Linked DNA regions of Homo sapiens. The protein of the gene in region 2 binds, or shares a complex with, the protein of the main gene of each other region. Each region holds a gene or a part of one and is shown on either strand. Other genes may lie near its edges.

Region 1 (7,000 bases), on a different chromosome or scaffold from region 2:
AGAACTTACATTTGAGTCAAATGGCCATAATGTATTATTTAAGTATACATTTTTCAGATAGCTAAAAGTTGGGATTCAGTGTTTAACAGTTTACGCTGACAAAAATATTCCTTAAAAACATTGTATTTCTCCTGGCAAATTACTTACTGAAGAGATAGAGTACAGCTATTAAGAAACAGCTTAGCTTTGGGTAAATAACAATGGTTGCTCATTTTTGGTTGTTTGTTCCTCTCTCTCCAAATAAAATGAAAGATACAGCTATGATTTCCTCTAATAGAGTTGAGCATTTTTTTTTTTAAAGGCAGGATATTTACAAAGCAAAATAGTTACATCTCAACTCCTGTATAACATTCAGTCTTTTTTTTTTTTTTTTTTTTTTTTTTTGAGACGGAGTTTCGCTCTGTCGCCCAGGCTGGAGTGCAGTGGCGCGATCTCGACTCACTGCAAGCTCCGCCTCCCGGGTTCACGCCATTCTCCTGCCTCAGCCTCCTGTGTAGCTGGGACTACAGGCACGCGCCACCATGCCCGGCTAATTTTTGTATTTTTTAGTAGAGACGGGGTTTCACCGTGTTAGCCAGGATGGTCTCGATCTCCTGACCTCGTGATCCGCCCGTCTGGGCCTCCCAAAGTGCTGGGATTACAGCAGTCTTAAGATTATTATACCGTATTGCTTTTTTTTAAACCAGTTACCATATTATCAGATTAGCATTATTGAATCAACAGGCTATTAACAGGCCTTTACTTGTCCTTTGACTATTAAGACTACTGTGGTATTACAATGACAACCTGGGACTTTTCTTGTTGCTCTGTTCTTTGATGTCCTTTGCCTGCCCTACCACTTGCTACCATTTCCTTTCTTCCTTCTTTTTCCATTTGTGCCATCTCCTATGTAATCTGTAGATTGACAGTCTGTGCCTAAAGGATTCCTCCTTATTTCTTCAGAAAACTTACATAACTCATGTAAAATTACAGAATATAGTTTTAATTTAGGGCAATAAGCTCAATATATTTCAGAAATAATTTTAAAACATCAACCTGAATTTAAAGTCATATCAAGGTTCAATCCAAGTCACAAATAGTGACTGGCACAATCACAGACAAAAAATGTTTCAAGTCGCTACAACACTATTATCTGATGCTGACAAAGTTTCATATGTTCCCAGTGTTATCTCTATTTCTTGTATCTTAAAGCATATGAAACAAGGTCTTAAATGATTTTTCCCACCACTGTTATCTTAAGTTATGGAACACTTTCTTGAGTGGCAAACAAGGATATTATGATCCAGTTATACCACTCTTTGAGAATCAATTTACTGAAATACAGCTTAGAAATCTAAGAGGAATGAATAGGTATGATGCCCTTTATCCTTATTCAAATGTAATCCAAATTTTAGCAAGCATCAACTACAGAAAACTCAAACAGTACATAGCTATAACAAAGTTTTGTTGTCCTAGTAAGGCCTCAATTATTCTTCTCTTTATTTTTACTTGTAATTACTATGAAGGAGGGTTTCAGTGATTCTTACAGCAAATATGAGTGTTTGCATAAAAATTAAATGGCCTAAAATTACTGAGGTTTAAGTTTTTATCTTGATCATCTTTTTATTTTCTATATCTTTTATTATACTATACTATAAATTAGTGTTCTTTATCTTCCTCCAATACATTTTACTCTAATTTGATCTTTGTAAGCTACCAGAGGCCAAGGAACTAAACCACCAAGGTTAGTATCTTTCTAAAATAAAACAGAAAGAGTAACTTGTTAGTAGCTGGACTTCTTGATATCTATTTCTGGTTGGTTAGAGGTAGCTTCCTTGCTGCTCTCCACCACCTTCACCCTAGTTGTGGATATTGAATCAGACACCTTTGGAAAACTGAGGCATTACTGAAAAAACTAAAAATTTCTTTTGATATTATAGCATAGGCTCATTTCTACAGACTAAGAGACTAGAACCCAAGTAGTTTATGTGACAAGCTTAAGAGAAGTACATTGGAAAAAAGAACAGATGGCTAGGCAACAACTCAGACCTAGGTTAATTAAATCTCCAAATTACAAAATAATTAAAAAAAAAAAAAAGAACTTGGCTATTATTTATTTATTTAGAGACAAGGTCTGTCACCCAGGCTGGAGTGCAGTGGTACGATGTTGGCTCACTGCAACCTCTGCCTCCTGGGTTTAAGCAGTCCTCCCACCTCAGCCTCCTGAGTAGGTGGGACTATAGGGGTGTGTCACCATGCCCAGCTAATTTTTGTATTTTCTATAGAGACATAGTTTCACCATGTTGCCTAGGCTGGTCTCCAACTCCTGGGCTCAAGTGATCTGCCTGCCTCAGCCTTCCAAAGTGCTGGGATTATAGGCGTGAGCTAATGCACCCAGCCTGGTTCGTGTTTCAAACTTTAGATTTTGTAATATGAAGACAAAAGCATATGAAGTTGAAAACTTTGACAAAATTAAAGTTGTGCTAATAGTTGTAGCTTTTGAGGAGTTTACAAAAATATTCCTGAGGCAGCAATCATTAATACAACTTTTTAGTAAAAACATTAACCATTCTTCTACCCCTGAATGGAGCAAAAGCACCCCTAATTTATAAGTCATAGTTACCCAAGAAATGTTATACAGAGCTAATAAAACTCTACTTGTACAGACTTACAACGGGACCGAGGCTCCCAAAGTAGGTATATATAAAAGAAAATGTACGATTATAAAAAACACAATGGTCAATCACAACAAACTTTTTGAAGGCATGTATGTGTCTTTAAGGACAAGAAATAAGGTTTAGCCATCTTAATATTACTTACAGCATTTTAGCATAGTGCCTTAATAGGAATTCAATTGAATGGCCAATTAATGAAATTTTTAATGGATTTAAGTAATAAAAATGCCTACTTGAAAAATTTGCTAAGCGAATATATTAACACTGAAAAATTTTACTCTTAGGAACTTCTAAAAAATTTGGTTCTTTTTAATCTCAAAAATAAATGTTTATTTTTACTAAATTTAGATTACTTTTGCTGTTAATCACTATTACTGGCCAAATAGTCTACATGTTTTATTCCAAGTAATGATTTAGGTCTTGGATGTTGATACTACGATGCTGTTTCCAATTTCTCAGCCTCCCAAATCAGTTTTTAAGATAGATGTTATTCAGTAGGAGAGAAGGTAATAAAAATCACATTTTTACTTACCATCAAATGCTTTAAATTGCCAGTTAGGAGTCTGAGATTTTCATAAGCGACTTAAAAAAAACAATCCATAGAAACCATTGTCACTTTCCCTCAAAGTTTTAATTGGGCACTATTAGTTCTACCGTAGTCCAATCCCTGTTTCTTATTCCTAACAAGTGAGTTCCTAAGGTCCTTATCTATAAATTTAATTGAGTCAAACTGAATCTGTTAACTTGGAACATTCACCTTTGTATTATTTGGGAAGAAATGTTTTTTAAACAATTGTAAAGATCACATAAAAAGGTTCAGATTATCATGTGAACAAATTGGCTTTAGCATCCCATATACTTCAGAAGCACAAATGTAATATAAATTTGACAATTTATAAATTATTTACTTCGTTGGGACAATATTACATTAGCTTCCTTTATTACTGAATTACGTACAGAGATGCTGTACAGAGAAAAAAATTATCCTTAGAAGGGTTAAAATGCAGTGTATTTTGATGAATCTTTGGATAAATGTAAAACTTTGATTATCCCAGGATGACGGTAAAAGATTAAGCAAAAGATAAACATAAGTACAATTTCCTGCAAATTGGTATCATCATCAAATTTAGTATTATATAGGGACATAACTTTTTATCCATTATTAACCAAACCAAGTCCCAGAATATGTAAGTCAATAAAACAGTTCAATTTGATTTTAAAAACACACAAAATCCTTTAATGCCACATTCTATAAATTCCAATCTTGTTTAGAAATATATCTGCAATTAATTTCCTCAACATTAATTTTTAAATAAGTTTAGGTTGAAGTATTGCAAATATACTGTGCCTGGTAACAAAAGATATTAAAAAAGGTTATCCTAGAATGATACTGATTTACCTTGTATACTATGAATGTCTAAAAGTAATAATTTTTAGAAACAATTGAAGAATAAAGACTAAAATGGAAACAGAGGCTAACATTTTATAAGTTTGTTATTAGGAACATCCAGTCACCCTAACAAAATTCCCTACTTATTTCAGTCATTTCTGCATCACAAAATAGTTTTGCTTTTATTATGCTTCGGTGATTCTGGATAGAACACAGGAAAAGAAGATACCCTCGAATCAAACAGGAACTTGACAAAGCCATGGTTTTACCCTAATTTTTTTTTTTTCCGAAAAATTCTGAATTTTGAGGACAGGGAAAAAAAGATAGGGGATTTTTCTTACCAAGCCATGCTGGTAGAATATACTTTTACTTAAAGAAAACAGGGTTTCTAATAAAAATCAGTTTGGCACAGGTACTTAATTTTTACATCTCTTTAAAAGGACTTGCTCTGTAACAGCTCTGATACTTAACAATGTAATATCAAAGTTTCGTTCTTTCAGTAGTAGTGGTTCCACCAAGTAAGTCATTTTCAACAAAACAAAAACCAACTTGAGTAAAGGTTAAGTTAACCATCCAAAGTGTTACAAAGATTAAATTAACTAGGTGCTTAGGTAAATCAAACACCAAGTGTACAGATTTTTTCATTTTTTGGTTATATATCAGAAGAGATAATAAGAACAAAAACAAAGGAAAAGGATAGATTAAAATATAATACATTTCATTTAAAATGTTACCTTAAAGGGAAATACAAACAATTGATAAAATAGTTGCTGTATCCCTGTCACACTAAAGCAGCACAGTAATATTGGTGTTTAATATATATTTCACTACGCCAATATTTACGTGCTGCTAGAGTGGAACAAGTATGTCAGTTCATCCAAACATAAAACGAACATCTGATGATGAAAACATAGTTTTGAATGAATTTCCTTAAATTTCTAGAGCAGCAAATAATGATTCGCATCTTGACTGTAGCATGTAAACCATGATGTGCTGCTACAGTACTTTAAGGCCTCAAAAATGTAGGATTCATCCAACCTAGCTTTATAGAAAAAAAAGTAACAAGAATAAGAGAATCTTTGAAGTCTTTAATAAACTTACCTGTAAAATTAAAAATCTATTATGGTCCAAGTCAATTCCATGGCTTCGAAGAAGATTTCCAACATCCTTAAATGTCTTTTTCTTTCCACTTATGTGATAGACAGAAGTATTATCTCTGCAGGCCGTTCTGGATACATAGAAATTACTGTTAGGAATGACTTCATAATCATCCCCTTCCTGTTTTGAGGAAAAACAAAACCAGAAAACAATTGTTGGTATTAAGTCATAGGCCTACTTCAAAATTCACTCATTTCATACTGAAACTAATTCTATGGATTAAAAACTTCAATTGAACATGCACACAAACTGCCAGTAGTTCTCATTAATAACCCAACTTAGCAAAGAATTGATACTTTTCCATGCTGTTTTGGTCCCTTTCTCAAAGATCACAAAAATCAAGAAGCCAAACCAACCAGCCAACGAAAAAACCCACCTCCAAACAAGCCTAAAAACGTTTATGATTGAGAAGACGTAGACAAGATTCCCACCATATCCAAAACCCACACAAATTATTAACATGTTGACAGATTAAAAAGCTGCAGCTTTTTAAAATGATGATTCAAAGAAAAAGGAAGGAAGGTAGTAACCGGGTGATACACTTTAGTTTTTTTGTGTGGGAGGGTAAAGAGTGTGCCGTTAATTTAAAGTAAAAAGAATCACAAAGAAATAACAACTAAATTCCCTTGATTTTCTTTTAAACAGATTTTTAAAAAAATCAATTGCAAATCTACTTTAACACTTTCCCTTAACCTTAAAAGTTCTGTCATACTGAAGCAAAGGCTTCTAAAATTTAGATAAATCAAATGTAATTAATATGCAATGGAATAAAATCTGATTTCCTGGCAATCTATTTTCCAACCCAACTTGTACAATAGAAAGCACAAAAGAAACCAAATTAAAATAGATGATTCTGTGTAATTAAAGCACTTTGTATTAAAAAAAGGAAAACGAATTCAAAAGACAAATCACCTCCCAATTTCATTATGTAATTAGTTTTCTATATTTTTAGGTTCCATCGAGTCATTTTTGAACAATCAATTTCCTACATTATTAAACAGAAGAGAAAAAGTCTCAACAGGTAAATAATCTAGACATTTTACCTCTAGTTGTCTCCATTTCTAGAAAACAAACATTAGCTTGTCCTTCCCCCATTTCTAAAGGACTTAATTACAGCAGTAGTCAAACTGAAGCAAAGCTCTTTCATATCACAGATACTCAGGGGCCACTAACATTAGAGTTAAAATGCACTGAAATAATGAAGATGGTAAAACCGGCTAACTGCTACATTTTCAAGTTTAGCTAATTTATTCTAAAGCAATCAAAATATAACTTTAAAAATGAACTGAATATTTATAGTAAAATAATGCCTATTTAGTACTCAGGACCCTAAAACTGCTCAATGCTTTTATTCCAAAAAGGATTACTATGAACTATTTATACTTCATTTCTTTAGCTAAAAAATAAGTATTTTAACAGGCACCACCACTCCCCCAAAATAAAATACGGTCAGAGATAATGAAACCAATGCTTTCCGCTGTAATTACATACAAATTTCTTAAAGCCAAAAATAAAATATGTAATGCATTTAAGTCCATTTTCCTTACTTGAACTTGCCAATAACAGTAAAAATCCCTTACCTTATCAATTATCTTTTGAAAATGAACTTCTACTGTACAACTCTGAATGTCCTTGTGTTCATCAGAATTATGTATTAATACTGAGAGTTTTTTAGATCTTATTTTTTGTGCTCGATAGCCAAACACAAAAAGCATAGAATCAATAACATTGGATTTGCCACTGCCATTTGGCCCGATAATACAGGAAAAGCGCTGCATTAAAAAAACAAAAACAAAAC
Region 2 (7,155 bases):
CAAGTAGCGCTGTGGAACTTGTAATATTTCTTCCGTATTACCTTCTATGTTGTCTTGGTACTAGATTGTTTGGGCACTCAGACTGACAGATCTTGACCCACTTTTTTCCCTTATTTTTTCCTCAATGTATACATGATCCTTTTTAGGGTAAGAAAGCTCGGACCAAGGCAGCCCATGGCTTTGACTGGGAAGAAGAGAGGCAACCAATTCTTCAGCTTTTAACACAGCTACTTCAGTTGGACATCCGTCACCTGTGGAACCACTCAATAATTGAAGAAGAATTTGTCAGGTGGGTAGGGAGGATGGCTACAGATAATACTGAGCTGTGAGAGTGAGGCTCTGTTGATAGATATGCCGTTTTTTTGGTTTTGTTTTTTTTTTGTGGGGGGACAGAGCTTCACTCTTGTCGCCCAGGCTGGAGCGCAGTGGTTCAATCTCGGCTCACTGCAGCCTCTACCTCCTGGGTTCAAGCAATTTTCCTGCCTCAGCCTCCCGAGTAGCTGGGATTACAGGTGCCCGCCACCACAAGCTGATTTTTGTATTTTTAATAGAGACGGGTTTTGCCATGTTGGCCAGGCTGGTCTTGAACTCCTAACCTCAGGTGATCTCCCTGCTTTGGCCCCCCAAAGTGCTGGGATTACAGGTGTGAGCCACCACGCCCAGCCAGAAGTCTATTTTTAAAATAAGTAAAATAAGTTTGATGGAAGAAGGTTGTGATTTTAAATCAGCTACTCTAGGCCCGGTGCGGTGGCTCACGCCTATAATCCCAGCACTCTGGGAGGCCGAGGCGAGTGGATCACCTGAGGTCAGGAGTTCAAGACCGGCCTGGCCAACATGGTGAAACCTTGTCTCTACTAAAAAAATATGAAAATTAGCTGTGCATGGTGGTGTGTGCCTGTAATGCCAGCTACTTGGGAGGCTGAGGCAGGAGCATCACTTGAACCTGGGAGAGGGAGGTTGCAATGAGCTGAGATCGCACCATTGCACTCCATCCTGGGCGACAAGAGCAAAATCCCGTCTCAAAAAAAATAGATAGGGCCAGGCGCGGTGGCTCACGCCTGTAATCCCAGCACTTTGGGAGGCTGAGGCAGGTGGATCACGAGGTCAGGAGATCGAGACCACGGTGAAACCCCGTCTCTACTAAAAATACAAAAAAAAATTAGCCGGGCATGGTGGCGGGCGCCTCTAGTCCCAGCTACTCAGGAGGCTGAGGCAGGAGAATGGCGTGAACCCGGGAGGTGGAGCTTGCAGTGACCTGAGATCGCGCCACTGCACTCCAGCCTGGGCAACAGAGCAAGACTCCATCTCCAAAAAAAAAAAAAAAAAAAAAGATAGATAGATAGATAGACAGACAGACAAACAGACAGACAAGCTACTCTAGTAAGACTTCTTTGAGATGGTGACATTTGAGCAAAGACCCAGAGGAGGTGACTGAGAGCTATGAGAATATGTGGAGGAATAGCAAGGGCAGGGAAAAGGAATAGCATATGCAAAGACCTTGAGGAGGGAGCATGTCCAGCACGTACGAGCAATAGCAAGGAGGCCAGAGAGCTGACAGCTGAGAGCAGGTACGAGGGTTAGGCCGTGAGGCCATGGGAGCAGTGGGGAGCCAGACCGCAGGTTCTTGTGGGCCATCATGGTGACTTTGGCATTTCCTCAGAATGAAGTGGAGCCACTGGGGAGCCACAAGCAGGGAGGTGAGGTGACCTGACTTGTACTTCAACAGGGCCATCCTAGCTGTTGTATTGAAATCGACTATGGAGGGAAAGGGGAAGCAAGAGACCAGTTAAGAGGCTGTTCCAATAACTCAAGCAAGAGATGATGGTCTCTTAGACCAAGGCGTGGCAGTGGAGATGGGGAGAAGTAGTTGGATTCTATACTTTTTCCTTAAGGTAGAGCTTACAGGATTTGCTAACAGACTGGGTGTGAGGTGGGAGGGAGAGTTCAGTCAAGGATGACTCTCCCGGGTTTTGGTCTGAGCATTTGGAAGACTGGAGTTAATGGTAACTGAGATAGGGAGAAGGCTGTGAATAGGTGTTTTGGGAGGAAGATCAGATGTTCTGTTTTGGACATACAAAGTTTGAGGTGTTTATTAGCCACGTAAAGTCAGATTTGGACGTTGAATATATAGATCTGGAGTTCAGGAGAGAGGTCTGAGCTAGAGATAACACATTTGGGAATATAATAGTATTCAGAGCCGTGAGACTGAATGAAATTACCAAATCAGTAAGTGTAGCTAAAAGAGCAGGAATCCAAGGACTGGTACCCTAGGGCACTCCAGCATTAAGAGTGAGGATGCCGGGTGCATGGCTCACGCCTATAATCCTAGCACTTTGGGAGGCTGAGGCAGGAGGATCACTTGAGCCCAGGAGTTTGAGATCAGCCTGGACAACATAGTGAAACTGTGTCTCTACAAAAAATAGAAAAATTAGCTGGGCATGGTGGAGGCTGAGGTGGGAGCATCACCTGAGCTATGAGGAGGTCAAGGATGCAGTGAGCCGTGATTGCACCACTGCACTCCAGCCTGGGCAACAGAGGCAGACCCTGTCTCAAAAAAAAGAGTCTGAGGAGGAACTAGCCAAAGAAACTGAGAAAGGAGTCTTGTTCTTGTGTCCTGGAAGCGAGATAAAGCATATATTTCAAGGAGAAAGTGAGTGATTAACTGTATCACATGCAGCTGTGAAAGACCACTTGAGATGCAGATTGAATCAGTCGTTATATTTAGGAATGAGAAGTCATTGGTGACTTTGTCTTTTTTTTTTTTTTTTTTGTGATGGAGTCTCGCAATGTCGCCTGGCCTGGAGTGCAGTGGCATGATATCAGCTCACTGCAACCTCCACCTCCCAGGTTCAAGGGATTCTCCTGCCTCAGCCTCCCAAGTAGCTGGGATTACAGGCGCCCACCACCACACCCAGCTAATTTTTTGTATTTTTAGTAGAGACAGGGTTTCACTATGTTGGCCAAGCTGGTCTTGAATGCCTGACCTCGTGATCCACCTGCCTCGGCCTCCCAAAGTGCTGGGATTACAGGCATGAGCCACCACACCCGGCCAACTCTATCATATTTTTATGATATATTTAGGTTCTTTGTCAGCATCACAACTGGTTGAAAGTTGGTAATCTTGAAGGAAGGAGTACCTAACTGGGGTCAGCAAAGCAAAGCAACTTGTTATAGAAAGTAATGGCTAGAATAAAGAAAACCCTGACTTTGGGAGCAGTAGGGATAGAATGAATGAGGCAGGGCTCTGATACAATTGGATTCAGACAGCTGCTTTCATCATCTCAAACTCTTCCTTTCTCAGTTTGGTTACTGGCTGTTGCTACCGCCTTCTGGAGAATCCCACCATTAATCACCAGAAGAACCGCCCCACTCGGGAAGCCATAACACACCTGCTTGGTGTAGCCTTGACCCGTTATAACCATATGCTCAGTAAGTTACCAGTCGCTTTGCCCCGCCTTTTTTGTATTGCCCATAATTTCTCATGTTTAATGCTTCCACAGGTGCTACAGTGAAGATCATCCAGATGCTGCAGCACTTTGAACACCTGGCACCTGTACTGGTTGCAGCCGTGAGTCTATGGGCAACTGACTATGGAATGAAGAGCATAGTGGGAGAGATTGTAAGGTGACTCTTCCTTCTCGAAGTTTCTCATGCTTATTTTCCTTGGGGAGGGAATAAAGAAAGATTGGAAATACATTATCTGTGCAACAGTAGATTCCTTCAGATATTAGATACCTGTCTTACCTTCCCTTACTGGGAACTGAATAATTGATCTATGTTGCTATGGCTGTGTTTTCTTCCCTGTGTAGAGAGATTGGACAAAAGTGTCCCCAAGAGCTGAGTCGAGACCCTTCAGGGACAAAGGGCTTTGCAGCATTCCTGACAGAACTAGCAGAACGTGTCCCAGCTATCCTGATGTCCAGCATGTGCATTTTGCTAGATCACCTGGATGGAGAAGTAGGTGGTCCACTAGGGGTCACTGAGCTTTTTCTGGGGATTTTAAGTCCAGTGTTGAAAGGCTGTTTCTTAACAGAACAAGAAAGTAGCTTTGACAAGTTGTCTAGATTTATCATTGTGACATTTCCTTTCTGTAGAGAAGCAGGTCAAGTTTGTTGAATAAGGAGCTCTTTATTAATCTGTTAATCTTTCAATTCACATTGCTTTTATCCAGTTCTGGTAAGGGAGATGACATTTCTGCAGCTTAAGTCTAGTAAGAGCAACTCAGCTTTGATTTTTTTTTTTTCTTGGAGGTAGGATCTGGCTCTGTCACCCATGCTGGAGCATGATCATAGCTCATTGCAGCCTCGATCTCCTGGGCTCAAGCAATCCTCCCACCTCAGCCTCCCAAGTAGCTGGGACTTCAGGCACATACTACCATGCCTGGCTAATTTTTTTAGTTTTTGTAGAGGTGGGGTCTTGCCATATTGCCCAGGCTAGTCTCAAACTCCTGGTCTCAAGCAACCCTCCTGCCTCAGCCTCCCAAAGTGCTGGGATTGCAGGCGCTACCATGCTTAGCCTTCAGCTTTGATTCTGAGTCCCATCTGTTCCTCAGGATAAAGCGTCTTCCCACCAGCTGGCTTGCCTTGCTTCCTCAAACAATGAACTTTCTCAAATCAACCCATGTCATCTCTCTCAATTCTCTTTTATGCCTGAATGCTAACCTGGCTGATTCCCATACTGATGTTGGGCACTCCTAGGTGAATGTCAAGGACAAAGACAGTCCACTTGTTCATCTCATTTACTTTAACTTTTTGTGCAAGACCCTATTCTCTGGTTCTTAGCCTGGCAAAACCTTAACCCTGCTCTCCACTAGATTATGTATTGGACTTGCTGGCACTCTTAAGGCTGATTTCCATGTTTCTGTCTCATTTTCTGTCAGTAAAGCATCTGAAGGAGAGTGGGAGGGAAAGGAGGGGATATTTATTAGTAAGGATTAAAGACTTTGAGGCCAGGTGTGGTGGCTCACGCCTGTAATCCCAGCACTTTGGGAGGCTGAGGTGAGTGGATCACTTGAGGTCAAGAGTTTAAGACTAGCCTGGCCAACATGGTGAAATCCCATCTCTACTAAAAATACAAAAAAAAATTAGCTGGGTGTGGTGGCGCGCACCTGTAATCCTAGCTACTCGGGAGGCTGAAGTGGGAGGGTTGCTTGAACCTGGGAAATGGAGGTTACAGTGAGCCGAGATCGCACCACTGCACTCCAACCTGGGTGACAAAACGAGACTCTGTCTCAAAAAAAAAACCAAAAAAAACCACACAGACGGGCGCGGTGGCTCACGCCTATAATCTCAGCACTTTGGGAGGCCGAGGAGGGTGGATCACGAGGTCAGGAGTTTGAGACCAGCCTGGCCAATATGGTGAAATCCTGTCTCTACTAAAAATACAAAAATTAGCTGGGTGTGGTGGCGGGCACCTGTAATCCCAGCTGCTTGGGAGGCTGAGGCAGGAGAATCACTTGAACCCGGGAGTCAGAGGTTGCAGTGAGCCGAGATGGCGCCACAGCACTCCAGCCTGGGCAACAGAGCAAGACTCCGTCTCAAAAACAAACAAACAACCACAATAACAAAGGCTTTGAGACCTCAGCTGAAGGGTAGTTAATAAATGCTTTTCAAATGTGTGTTGGTGAGTGGATGTGATTTTTTTATTCAGCTACTACCATGCTTTCCTGTGTGAGCCCTATGAGGAAAAATTGGTTTTGGCCCTTGTTCTAGCATTCTCTGAGCAACAAGTCCTCTTTGGGATTCAGCTTTCTCCTGTGACCTTGGGAGTGAATACCTAGGCAGTTAATGGAAAAAGTTATGGCCAAGCACAAGCAAGCTTCGCCTTGACTAAAGGTTTGACCCCTCTATGCTTCTCTCTCTTAGAATTACATGATGCGTAATGCTGTGCTGGCAGCCATGGCGGAGATGGTGCTGCAGGTTCTCAGTGGCGATCAACTGGAAGCAGCAGCCCGAGACACCAGAGACCAGTTCTTGGATACTTTACAAGCCCATGGCCATGATGTCAACTCCTTTGTGCGGAGCCGTGTTTTGCAGCTCTTCACCCGAATTGTCCAGCAGAAGGTAACCAACTTCTATGTGGCAAAAACATATGGTACCTCTCCATATACCAGTGTAAAGAGGAATCCAGTGTTGAAGATAAATATCTGCCCCAAAGAGGTCTAGAATTCACATTTTTATTATCAGTAGTAAAAGTCTTCCTCTACCAAGGACGAGGATATCTGGCTCCCTTTAAGGACTGTAATGTGTCTTACCACTACAAGGAGTACTCCTAATCTATATTCTGTAGAAAGGGTTTTTAGAGTGAGTGGGTAGCTCAGTTTAGAGTATACTTAAAGATCATCTTGAACAAAATGGATGATGTGGGACTTGAGCAGATTCTTCTCTTCCTACCCTACACAGGCTCTCCCCCTGACACGTTTCCAGGCAGTGGTGGCTTTAGCTGTGGGACGTCTGGCAGACAAGTCAGTGCTAGTATGTAAAAATGCCATCCAGCTGCTGGCCAGTTTTCTAGCCAATAATCCTTTCTCCTGCAAGGTAAGTAGACTTGGTCCACCAAAAGAGAAGGAATTAAATGGAAACAGGGATGAAATTATGTCATTTACTGACCCTGCTATTCATTTTACCTGATAGCTTAGTGATGCTGACCTTGCCGGACCACTGCAGAAGGAGACCCAGAAATTACAAGAGATGAGGGCCCAGAGGCGAACTGCAGCAGCTTGTAAGTAGTTACTGCCTTGGAGTCCTAATGCCAGACAGGCTTCTCCTTGCAGTCAGAAACTCTAGTGAAAGAGACTAAGTGACACTCTCATTTAGCTGCAGTGCTGGACCCAGAGGAGGAGTGGGAAGCCATGCTGCCAGAGTTGAAGTCTACCCTGCAGCAGCTTCTACAGCTTCCCCAGGGAGAGGAGGAGATTCCTGAGCAAATTGCCAATACAGAGACAACTGAAGATGTGAAAGGACGCATCTATCAACTGCTTGCCAAAGCTAGTTACAAGTAGGCAAAAGAATGGGATATTCTTCGTGATCTGTTTATGTTTAGAGTTAACCTTTGAGAAACTTACATAATGTGTCTTTTAAATTAACTGCACACAGATATGCTGCCACCAGGTGATGGTAGATGTTTTCATGTAGTAATGGTCTGACCATAGGCCTA
Region 3 (3,387 bases), on a different chromosome or scaffold from region 2:
AATAATAGAGGTACTTCATTATAACACATTTTTCATATACTGTCCTCAAATACATTGAACTAAAATTTGCCTTCTTTTAACTTGCTTGAAATTTCCTTATTTTCCCTTACTCATTATTAGTGCTTACAAAATAAATTAAGTTTTAATCTTGCTTGGGTTCCTTTTTCTGTGGCAGTGATAACTGGTACCAAGATGGCTAGAACAAGTAGGAGATACATGTGTTGAAAGGATTGTTGTGTTGAAGACAAAGGATTTAGTTAGCCTAGAAACTAGATTAAAAACAAAAAGCAACTGATAATAAATCCTGATAATGAATTATACTATCTTCAAGGACAGAGAAAAGTGACAGTTTCAGCTAGGACGAACAGGAGGTGTCAGACTGCTGAAGCCGACTCTGAAAGGTATGTCATGCATGTCTAGAATATATGGAGGCCTATCTTCACTTTTTATTTCTACAAGTAGAAAAAAACTAATTTTCTTGCGAATGAGAGAGAATATATAACAAGATAGTGAAAACTATAAATAGCTGTCTTAGGTATATAGTCTAAAATTCCATCATCAAGAGCATTTGACTTCTTACGGCGTGTTTGCTTTTGCCTATTAGCTGGCATGGTCTTTAGTACTATCTTTAATATGTTGTTTCAATTTTTAATTACATGATGTGACTCCTCTTTGATCTTCAGTTAGCAAACTCTTGATTTTGATAATATTTGGGTTCTCTACACTTACATACTGATAGAATAATTCTGTCTATAATTTGGGTATATTGTGTGGTAGAGTGTTTTATTTTTGGCTTCTGTCAGTCAAGCCACTGTTAGAGCTGAAAGTTGGTAGCTGTCTTGTATTCATTTGCAAAATTGTATTGTGTGTATTTTCAGTACATAGTTTTACACTGTTGATTAAATTTGTCTTTTTTGGGGGGAAACTTGTTTTTTACTATGTTTTTGGAATTTATTGCTTAAATCAAGAGAGAGAACTTAATTTTTTTGTCACTTCTTGAGTTTCAAAGAAATCTCTTTTGGACAGTTATGGTCCTCGTTTAATTACAAGCTTCATTACAAGTTTGTGGCTTTTTTTCCTGTATAACACCAGGTTCTGTTATAGTATATAAAATCATTAGCTAGATTTTCCCTGATTCACTTTGCTAGATAGCCAAGTCAGTGTTTTTTTGACATTGAGATTTTAGTTTTAAGCTAAGTCAATGGAATCAGGCTATCAATTAAACACTGATAGAATGTGAGTCAGAAACAAAAAAGTTTTATTTATAAATAAACTGGTTTTAAAGCTTGTATCTAAATTCGTGTATTTTCAACATCTATTTAGTGATCATGAAGTTCCAGAACCAGAATCAGAAATGAAGATGAGACTACCAAGACGAGCCAAAACCGCAGCACTAGAAAAAAGTAAACTTAACCTTGCCCAATTTCTCAATGAAGATCTAAGTTAGGAAAGACGATGGAGGTGGAATCCTTTAAGATTATGTCCAGTTATTTGCTTTAATAAAGAAGAAGTTACCCTTGTCAAAATCAGAACAAACCTGATGTCTTTCTGAAGATTTTCTGCTGTGCGCTTCCACGTTACTTTGGCCTGTATTAAAGCAGTAGAGCAGCATCAGTTATTATAGTCCAGAAAAAGTGTGCATCAGTCAGTCACACAGATTTATCACAATCTGAGGTGGGCCTAGGAATCTCATTTTTAAATAGTCTCTCCAAGTGATTCTTATGAACTCTTTATGTTTAAAATCATGTCATTATGGAAAACTTACAAGTGTAACTAGCTAGTAGCTTGCATTTGAGAAGCTTATGACTTAGATGGGCAGAATCAACAAAGATGAAACCGCCTGAGGACACATTTAACAAGTAACATTTCTAGGGAAAATGAAGGAAGTACCACAAACTGGCTAGAAAGGAGCTTATCAATCACCAGTGAGGAAGACCAGTATAACGTTCAACAACAGTTATTTTGACAAAAACTTATTTTGTGATTCCTACAGTGAAAACATTTTTGGTGATATCTGCCTGGGAAATCTCTCTTCCTAAAGTATTTGTATATGGGAGTCCTTGTTTGTGAATGTTTCCTGGATTAGGGAGGTGTCAACATAAATGTATTATTAACCATGAAGCTGCTCGCTATATTTTTGGCATAACAAAATAATATTTATTTACTGTGGATAATAATTCTAGTGGGAATATAATGTGACAGGAACTTCTCTTTATATACGCTACCAATTTATGAGCACTATTCACTGTCAATTTCATTTCTTGTCTTTTGAAATTGACACTTGGCCTGACTTACGAAACTTGTACTATATGAAATTGGTCCTCTTTTCTGCAATACCCAACGAAACACCTTTTCTCTTTATTATTCAGAAATGTCCTAACATGGATCTGTTTGTTTTAATAATTGTGCTTTTTTTAGGCTTATCATCTACTAGAGGCCATTTACTTAAGGTGAAATTTTAAGATGGAGCTAAAGTAAGATCACTGGTTTTTAGAACCAAATTGCTATACATATGTGCCTCATAGAACTTATAAAAGGAGTCAAAGTTTCAAAGCAAGATAGTTATTAAGCAAAAGGAAAAATGGTAATGATAGAAAGTCAGTTAAAAATAGATGATTGTTCTTCATTCTGTTTGTTGGCTCTGTGTTCTCCTGTGCTTCAGATTCCTTATGTGTTGTTGTTTTAAAGACAATTTGCAGGGGGTTGGGAGAAGGACTGAAAAGGTACATTAAGTGTGCTGTAAGGAAAAGTCTTAGAAACATAATAAGCTAAAATCCCATTCACACATGGCCAGGCTATCCAAAAAGAAAGGAGCCATGTTCTCATGTGGTTTACCATACCAAAGCTTGCTTTCTCTGGCATGGGAAAAATAAATTTAAGCACCAAACCTTTAGTATTCTGAGTATTCAGTTTTTAGACATAGTCATGTAGCCATTGCTGAAACTGTGCTTTGCACTATTAAAGGTAGGGAATGTCCTGCTTTTAAAAGTCATCCCTTTAACTTTAAAATAAAAGGCTAAGGTACAATAAAACAGATGTAAATCCATTTACCATTTTTCATTCAAAACTGGTAACTTACAGAAACCACATAGTATTTTTCTCTATCAAGAGGCACAGATTTGCTGAACAGTAAACATGCAATTGTGCCATTGCTCTTAAAGCCCACAGACTTAGATTTAAAATACAGAGAAAGAACTGATAAGCTCACATTTTCCTGTGAATGGGAAACATGCTACTTGACAAAAAGCTATGATCAACTTTTTTTCTTCTGTACATATATAACGTTGAAGGAGATTTACTTCTAAGAGATACCTTTGCCTTTTCTTTCACCAATTTGCTTCGAGGTAGTTGGTATCCACCTGTTTTACAACTGCTCATGGGTCAGGT

The links. Proteins that work in one complex are often made in the same cells at the same time.
Region 1: NCAPD2 (region 2) and SMC4 share a complex: the UniProt entries of both Homo sapiens proteins name them as parts of the condensin complex.
Region 3: NCAPD2 (region 2) and NCAPG share a complex: the UniProt entries of both Homo sapiens proteins name them as parts of the condensin complex.

The regions. Positions count from the first base shown.
Region 1 is NC_000003.12:160,402,650-160,409,649, reverse strand, and holds part of SMC4 (structural maintenance of chromosomes protein 4), read right to left. Parts: intron 6,975-7,000; coding exon 6,783-6,974; intron 5,323-6,782; coding exon 5,146-5,322; intron 5,063-5,145; exon of another isoform or gene 4,965-5,062; intron 4,906-4,964; exon of another isoform or gene 4,825-4,905; intron 1-4,824. UniProt on the Homo sapiens protein: Central component of the condensin complex, a complex required for conversion of interphase chromatin into mitotic-like condense chromosomes.
Region 2 is NC_000012.12:6,510,964-6,518,118, forward strand, and holds part of NCAPD2 (condensin complex subunit 1), read left to right. Parts: intron 1-146; coding exon 147-289; intron 290-3,301; coding exon 3,302-3,429; intron 3,430-3,500; coding exon 3,501-3,624; intron 3,625-3,809; coding exon 3,810-3,957; intron 3,958-5,864; coding exon 5,865-6,062; intron 6,063-6,401; coding exon 6,402-6,536; intron 6,537-6,632; coding exon 6,633-6,720; intron 6,721-6,815; coding exon 6,816-6,996; intron 6,997-7,155. UniProt on the Homo sapiens protein: Regulatory subunit of the condensin complex, a complex required for conversion of interphase chromatin into mitotic-like condense chromosomes.
Region 3 is NC_000004.12:17,841,979-17,845,365, forward strand, and holds the end of NCAPG (condensin complex subunit 3), read left to right. Parts: exon of another isoform or gene 1-331; coding exon 332-401; exon of another isoform or gene 402-1,323; coding exon 1,324-1,447; 3' UTR 1,448-2,887; downstream 2,888-3,387. UniProt on the Homo sapiens protein: Regulatory subunit of the condensin complex, a complex required for conversion of interphase chromatin into mitotic-like condense chromosomes.